Regions from separate parts of the Homo sapiens genome. Here all the other regions are linked to region 3. Evidence: fine-mapped expression QTL. A gene starts in region 3. Each other region holds a variant in brackets. All regions are shown on one strand. Distances are from middle to middle.

The links. PIP is the estimated chance that this variant, and not a neighbour inherited with it, causes the effect. A credible set is the group of variants that fine-mapping cannot tell apart.
Region 1: its variant is the best candidate, but not a certain one, in a credible set for the expression of SETD5 in whole blood (INTERVAL, PIP 0.62).
Region 2: its variant is the best candidate, but not a certain one, in a credible set for the expression of SETD5 in whole blood (TOPMed, PIP 0.62).

What each region holds. Positions count from the first base shown.
Region 1 is chr3:9,483,540-9,486,303 of GRCh38, reverse strand. No RefSeq gene overlaps it. Among named protein-coding and RNA genes, the nearest start is that of LHFPL4, 69 kb to the left of the region's middle. The variant C/T (reference allele first, on the strand shown) is at 1,358.
Region 2 is chr3:9,448,592-9,451,355 of GRCh38, reverse strand. SETD5 (SET domain containing 5) reads right to left here. Exons shown (of 23, transcript NM_001080517.3): 16 at 2,726-2,764. Among named protein-coding and RNA genes, the nearest start is that of SETD5, 52 kb to the right of the region's middle. The variant C/T (reference allele first, on the strand shown) is at 1,409.
Region 3 is chr3:9,396,123-9,398,886 of GRCh38, reverse strand. SETD5 (SET domain containing 5) reads right to left here and starts at 1,272. Exons shown (of 23, transcript NM_001080517.3): 1 at 910-1,272. It overlaps THUMPD3-AS1 (THUMPD3 antisense RNA 1), which reads left to right and starts at 2,264. Exons shown (of 4, transcript NR_132781.1): 1 at 2,264-2,327. RefSeq lists an enhancer at 405-454 and a silencer at 1,065-2,374.

The sequences.
Region 1 (2,764 bases), 87 kb before region 3:
CATTGAGATAGTGAGACAGCGAGATAGCCTATAGTTGGGATTTGTTTTTTATCCATTTAGCCACTCTGTCTTCTGATTGGAGAATTCAGTCCATTTACATTCAAGGGAATTATTGACAGGCAAGGACTTACTATTGTCATTTTGTTCAGTGTTTTCTGTTTTTGTAAATTTTTTGTTCCCTTCTTCCCCTTTTGCTGTCTTCCTTTGTGAAGTGATGAATTTTTACAGTGGAATGGTTTGATTCCTTACCCGTTATCTTTTGTGTATCTAGTATAGACTTTTGCCCTGTGGTTACCATGAGGCTTACATAAAACATCTTAAAACAGTCATCTATTTTAAGCTAATCACTTCCATACAAAAACTGTATACTTTTACTTTCTCCCATTTATATCTTTAAAGTAATGACTTACATATTTTTATACTGTATATCCATTAACAGATTATTGTAGTATAGTTAAATATTTGTCTTTTAACCTTCATACTAGAGTTTATATTAAGTGATTTATACACCATTATAGTATAGGATAGCTCATTTCTTTTTAACACTGAATAATATTCCATTGGATGTATCACCATTTACTTATCCATTCACCTACTGAAGGACATCTTGGTTGCTTCCAAGTTTTTGCAATTATGAATAAAGCTGTGATAAATGTTCACATGCTGGTTTTTATGTGGACCTGTTTTCAATTCTGGGGAAATACGCAAGAGTGCAACAGCCAAATTGTATGTTTACTTTTTAAAGAAACTGCTGAAGTGTATTCCAAAGTGACTGTACCATCTTGCATTCCCACCAACAATGAATGAAGAGTACCTGTTACACATCCTTGTCAGCATTTGGTTTCATTAAGTGTTTTAGATTTACCATTCTAGTAGGTGTATGATGGTATCTCATTGTAGCACTAATCTGCAATTACTGGATGATTTATGATGTTGGGAGTCTTTTCATACAATTACTTGTCATTTGTATATGAGGTGTCTGTTTAGATCTTTTGCCCATTTTTAAATTGGGTTTTTATTTTTCTTTTGTTGAGTTTTCAGAGTTCTTTGTATTGAATAGTCCTTTATCAGGTATGTTTTTTACAAATCTTTTCTCCTACTCTGTGGCTTATCTTCTCAATCTCTTGACAGTGTCTTTTGCAGAGCGATGTTTTAACTTTAATGAAGTCCAGCTTACCAATTGCTTTTTTCATGGATCATCCTTTTGGTGTTGTACCTAAAAAGTCAGTCAATTCCAAGGTTATCTGGATTTTCTCCAATGTTCATTATTTTAGGAATTTAATAGTTTTACATTTAGGTCTGTGTTCCATTTTAATTTTTATGAAGGATGTAAGATGTGTATAGATTCATATATATA[C/T]ACACACACACACACACACACACACACACACACACACATATATATATATAGCACGTGGATGTCTGGTTGTTCCTGCACCATCCATTACGGACTCTATCGTTTTGCTTTTGCTTCTTTGCCAAAGATCAGATGATTCTATTTGTGTGGGTCTACTTCTGGACTCTTTATTGTGTTCCAGTAATCTATTTGCCTAATCTTTTGCTGATATCACACTGTCTTGATTACTGCAGCTTTATGATGTGTTGAGGTAGTGTTAGTTTAAAACTTTAGAATTAGCCGGACACAGTGGCTCATGTCTGTAATCCCAGCAATTTGGGAGGCTGAGGCAGGCAGATCACTTGAGGTCAGGAGTTCGAGACCAGCCTGGCCAATGTGGTGAGACCATCTCTACTAAAACTACAAAAATTAGCCGGGCATAGGGGTGCACACCTGTAATCCCAGCTACTCAGAAGGCTGAGGCAGGAGAATCACTTCAACCTGGGAGGTAGGGATTGCAATGAGCTAAGATCATGCCACTGCACTCCAGCCTACATAACAGCACAAGACCCTGCCTTAAAAAACAAAACAAAACAGACAAACCCCCTTTAGAATCAGCTTGTTGATATCTACAAAATAACTAGCTGGTATTTGGGTTGGGATTGCATTGAATTTATAGATCATGTTTAGAAGAACTGATATCTTCACAATACTAGTCTTCCTATTCATGAACACCTCTATTTATTTAGATCTTTGATTTTTTTCATTAGTTTTATAGTTTTCGTCATGCAGGTCTTATACGTATCTTGTTGGAATTACACCTAAGTATTTCATTTTAGGGTACTAATTTATTTTAATTTTATTTATTTATTTATTTATTTATTTATTTATGCATTTATTTATTTATTTTTGAGACGGAGTCTCGCTCTGTTGCCCAGGCTGGAGTGTAGTGGCGTGATCTCAGCTCACTGCAATCTCTGTCTGCTGGGTTCAAGTGATTCTCCTGCTTCGGCCTCCTGAGTAGTTGGGATTACAGGCGTCCTCCACCACGCCCGGCTAATTTTTGTATTTTTAGTAGAGACGGAGTTTCACCATGTTGGCCAGGCTGGTCTCGAACTCCTGACCTCAGGTGCTCTGCCTGCCTCAGCCTCTTGAAGTGCTGGGATTATAGGCGTGAGCCACTGCGCCTGGCCTTTGGGCACTAATTTAAATGGTCTTGTGTTTATTTTTTAGTATCAGAGTGTTGCTCTGTCATCCAGGCTGGAGTGCAGTGGTACGATCATGGCTTACTGCAGCCTTGAACTCCTGGGCTCAAGTGATCCTCCCACCTCAGCCTTCCAAGTAGCTGGGACTACAGGTGTGCACTACCATGCCTGGCTTTGTTTTAAATTTCAAATTCCATTTTTCATTGCTAATATACAGAAATGTGAT
Region 2 (2,764 bases), 52 kb before region 3:
GACAATGATCCCAATTTCATGCATGGTAAGTGAGATAATGTATGTGAAGAAAGCTTATAGTACAGTACTGAACACTGAGCAGATTTTCACCGAGTCCCGGTTCAACTAAATTTCAATGCTATGTTTGGAGATTTACAGATAATGCTCCAGTGTATAAAATGAAATATTAATTATCAATGCAAAGCACACTGTTTCATTATCAGTCAGACTGGTTTTTCTAAGAAGTCTGGAGACCAAATGCCCTATACACATTGTGTTTAGAAGAGGAGTTTAGAGAGAACAAGGTGAAACACTACTGAGAGCCTTGTTGGCCACTTATAAATGTTTTTAAAATACCAACTGAGGAACTAAAAAATGCAAAATGCTTCTTAAAAACTATGATTCAATTTAGAAACTCTAGGGATATCATAAAATGTTCTGTCAAATACCTGAACTCCTCTTCTTTTCAGAAGTTGCAGAATAATAATGATAAAAATAAAAATAAATAGCATAAGAATCTGAGTACAACTATACAGATACAACTTTAATTTGTCCTATACTGGTAAGTTTTTAACTTACAAGGCCAGGCCCTTACCTCTTTAGTGAGATATGAAACAGTGAGCCTATTAGAAATATACATTGTTCTAAATAATCCCATGGAGGGTTTTCTTATCTATCTGATTAACTTATACTCTGAGGGATTTTCAGAATTTTATTACAATTTTGTTGAATAATGAAAATGTTCTTAGGTTCTGCATTAGGTAAGTCCTTTCTAACCAATATTAGGAGATATTAGAAGAAGACCAATATTAGAAGAAGAACTCTTCTTCACTGCTATAAAGCCAAATTCTATTCTAGCTAAAACATTCCATTTCATTTTATTTTGCCTCATAAAAAGCTGTATTTTAAAAAATAGAATCTTGATATGTGAACAGCACACAATAAAGCAATGACTTAAACAGTTTTTAAAGATCCTATTTAAATAGTCTTGTTATGATAATCCTGTGTATGCAGCCTAAACTCTTCCTAAAGACTAACCATGACACATAGATAAAAGTGCTTGAGTAGAGCCTGTATAAATGAGATTAAGGATAGTCAGATACACTTGGAGAATATAACAGGGACTTGTGTTAAATGGAATTTCTATCTGTTGCCCGTAGAAATTTAAGGATGTGCTATAGATACAAGTATAAAAGCAGAACCAAGTTAAAAAAGCTTAAAGAAATGCATTTTCTACCAGATCTGAAGTTACAGTCCTAGACACGTTTTTGGTTTTCGTTAAGTCTCTGCTAGTTGGAAAAGATGGAAACAGAAAGACTGCAACCCAGCATTAGAATTATCAAGAAGGAATTTCAATTCAAGAGCCTAGTTCATATTATTTGCAGCTCAGACTTCATTACTTATCTGTAATAAATAATTGCCTACACTC[C/T]TTAAAGGACCAAAATAGGAGATTGTACGACCTGGCTTGATAAGATGCTTCAACAGTTAACATCCTTAGAAATGGTCAAATTTCTCTTTAGGAATTCTACGAGCGTTTCCCCGAACAAACCAATGAGTGATTCCAATGTTTAGGTAAGATGTGCAATTAGGAAAAGACTTTCTGCAATGTGCTGCTCATTCAGCAGTAGTGTCCTTCCTTTTTGCAGATTCCTATTGCCCTCCTCCCCTCCATATCCCACACCACTTTGGCTCATCTTTCATGCCCCCCTCCCCCGGAGAAATAACTTCTGTTCTTTGGGGAAAGAGAAAAGCTTTTAAGTTTGGAGGAGTCAGGGAAGACCTGCCTGGAGTTGGAGACTTCATCACATCAAATAATCTACATGCAGCATCCTCATGTACGTGATGCCAGTGGAGGAGGGCAATGGCAGACACTGAGGAAGGCAGCCTGAATCCAGATCTGAGGATAAGAGAAAAGGGTGTTCCAGGGAACAGACTCTACCTCAAAGGAAGACCAAATGAAAGGGTGTCCTATACTTCTAGAAACATGGAAAACGACATCATAGATCTGAGGGAGTGATCTATTCCTAAGAGACACCTTTGGAAAATATGCAGGGCTTCTGGGAATTAAGAAAGAGCATTCCAAAAACACCACCAAACGCTACTGCCACTAGATCCAAAAACAGTAAGTAACTGGAAAGAGGAGAAAGAGGCAGAAACAGAGAGGGAAAGAGAGTCTTTTAGGGTAGATTCTGTATTCTCTTGGAATAAACAGTCCGACTTGTCATTTGATCAAGGAACAGGAATTATGCCAATTACAATAGGATTTTTCCTCTAATTTCCTTCAAGTGATGATAGTGGATAATAACGGTTGAATTGATTCAAAACAATTTAATTTTTTTCATTTATGCAACAGTGTTCTAGAGGACCCAGGGCCTAATCTCACACAATAATCATAAATGGACATGTTAACCCATATCACAAGAGCACACACAAAACATATCCGTCTCTACCCAGTCATCCACTGCTGTGTGCTCTCACTCAGGAACCTCAAGGGTTCTCAGAAGAGACATCAGTGACCAGTCACAAATCTGAGCACTAAAAATGCAGTACATTCATTCCACCACAGTCTCACAGACTCTTGATGAATCAGTATTTATGGCTGAACAACTAACTCATTATAAACTCACATGGGCAGAGTGGCTATCTAGAGAACATTTTATTTATGTCATGATGATAGGAATCTTAGGCTTAAAAAAATAAAGCACACACACATAAACACAACACACACACAAAAACACAGACATACCTTCTTACAGGAGCTGAATGTGCCATCAGGCAGAAGGGG
Region 3 (2,764 bases):
GAAAGACCACTGACGCCCAAGAAGTGAGACAAGCAAGGACTCTATAGAATCAATTAGCATAGAAGGGGCTTTCCCAACAGTTTAACTTTCCCTCTCATGCGATTTACCTACTTGAACCAGGGCTCTTTCCTACACTCCTCTTCACATTCCCGACTTACACGCAGAGGGAAAGAGAATTCATAAAGGGAATATTTTTCTGCCTTTGAAGATATTCTCACAAGATCGTTCTCCACGCCCAAGGCAAGTAAAACGACACAATCTGGCTCAACTCCAGGCTCGAACCCTACACATTCAACGAGGCTATCTCAGACACGCTGTGGCACACGCCACGGGGAGCCAGAGAACGTGTGGTGGGGGTGGCGAAGGTAATGCCTTTGGGAAGCAGCCATCTGAGGTGGGAAGCCAGAAAACGAGAGGGAAGGCGTCCAGGAAGATTACGGAGGGGAGATCGCGGCCCCCAGAGCGATCAGAGTTGTCTGTCACAAGGCCGCGAGAACGGGGGTAGGGAGTGGGGGATCGGGGAGAGAAAAAAAGTATGCCTGTGTATTTCGAGCGGAGGGCAGCAAGAGGCCTCTCCTCAAGGGAAAGGTAAACGTGGAGTAGGCAGTTCCCAGGAAAGGGGGTGAAGAGGCGTTGGGGGAGGGGAAGCGTCCTGACCCAGGAAAAACATGAAAGGGGGAGTTGGGTCGCCTAGATTAGAGGGGGATCTCTCTCCCTGGGAAAATGGGGTGTTGCAACGGTGTGTGCAAGGCGGCGAGGGGGGTGAGAAGTGGCAGCATCCTCCTAAGAGCTTGGGGAGGGCCAGGCCCACGACCCAAGGAGAGCGAGCGCGGGGAGACGGAGGAGGTGACCCTTCCCTCCCCTGGGGCCCGATCGTGAGGTTCGGTCTCTTTTCTGTCGGACCCTTACCTTGTCCCAGGCGCTGCCGGGGCCTGGGCCCGGGCTGCGGCGCACGGCACTCCCGGGAGGCGGCAGGACTCGAGTTAGGCCCAACGCGGCGCCACGGCGTTTCCTGGCCGGGAATGGCCCGTACCCGTGAGGTGGGGGTGGGGGGCAGAAAGGCGGAGCGAGCCAAAGGCGGGGAGGGGGGGCAGGGCCAGGGAAAGAGGGGGGCCGGCACTACTGTGTTGGCGGACTGGCGGGACTGGGGCTGCGTGAGTCTCTGAGCGCAGGCGGGCGGCGGCCGCCCCTCCCCCGGCAGCGGCGGCGGCGGCGGCGGCGGCGGCGGCGGCGGCAGCTCACTCAGCCCGCTGCCCGAGCGGAAACGCCACTGACCGCACGGGGATTCCCAGCGCCGGCGCCAGGGGCACCCGGGACACGCCCCCTCCCGCCGCGCCATTGGCCTCTCCGCCCACCGCCCCGCACCCATTGGCCCACTCGCCGCCAATCAGCGGAAGCCGCCGGGGCCGCCTAGAGAAGAGGCTGTGCTTCGGCGCTCCGGCTCCTCAGAGAGCCTCGGCTAGGTAGGGGAGCGGAACTCTGGTGGGAGGGGAGGTGCGGTACACTGGGGGGATGGGTGGCTAGGGGGGCCGTCTGGTGGCTTGCGGGGGTTGCCTTTCCCGTGGGAAGTCGGGAACATAATGTTTGTTACGTTGGGAGGGAAAGGGGTGGCTGGATGCAGGCGGGAGGGAGGCCCGCCCTGCGGCAACCGGAGGGGGAGGGAGAAGGGAGCGGAAAATGCTCGAAACCGGACGGAGCCATTGCTCTCGCAGAGGGAGGAGCGCTTCCGGCTAGCCTCTTGTCGCCGATTGGCCGTTTCTCCTCCCGCCGTGTGTGAAAACACAAATGGCGTATTCTGGTTGGAGTAAAGCTCCTGTCAGTTACGCCGTCGGGAGTACGCAGCCGCTTAGCGACTCTCGCGTTGCCCCCTGGGTGGGGCGGGTAGGTAGGTGGGGTGTAGAGATGCTGGGTGTGCGGGCGCGGCCGGCCTCCTGCGGCGGGAGGGGAGGGTCAGTGAAATCGGCTCTGGCGCGGGCGTCCTCCCACCCTCCCCTTCCTTCGGGGGAGTCGGTTTACCCGCCGCCTGCTTGTCTTCGACACCTGATTGGCTGTCGAAGCTGTGGGACCGGGCCCTTGCTACTGGCTCGAGTCTCACATGAGCGAAACCACTGCGCGGGGCGCGGGGGTGGCGGGGAGGCGGGCGTTGGTACGGTCCTCCCCGAGGCCGAGCGCCGCAGTGTCTGGCCCCGCGCCCCTGCGCAACGTGGCAGGAAGCGCGCGCTGGAGGCGGGGGCGGGCTGCCGGCCGAGACTTCTGGATGGCGGCGGCCGCGGCTCCGCCCCGGGTTCCCACCGCCTGAAGGGCGAGACAAGCCCGACCTGCTACAGGCACTCGTGGGGGTGGGGGAGGAGCGGGGGTCGGTCCGGCTGGTTTGTGGGTGGGAGGCGCTTGTTCTCCAAAAACCGGCGCGAGCTGCAATCCTGAGGGAGCTGCGGTGGAGGAGGTGGAGAGAAGGCCGCACCCTTCTGGGCAGGGGGAGGGGAGTGCCGCAATACCTTTATGGGAGTTCTCTGCTGCCTCCCGTCTTGTAAGGACCGCCCTGGGCCTGGAAGAAGCCCTCCCTCCTTTCCTCCTCGCGTGATCTCGTCATCGCCTCCATGTCGAGTCGCTTCTCGATTATGGGCGGGATTCTTTTGCCTAGGCTTAAGGGGCTAACTTGGTCCCTGGGCGTTGCCCTGCAGGGGAGTGAGCAGCTGTAAGATTTGAGGGGCGACTCCGATTAGTTTATCTTCCCACGGACTAGAGTTGGTGTCGAGGTTATTGT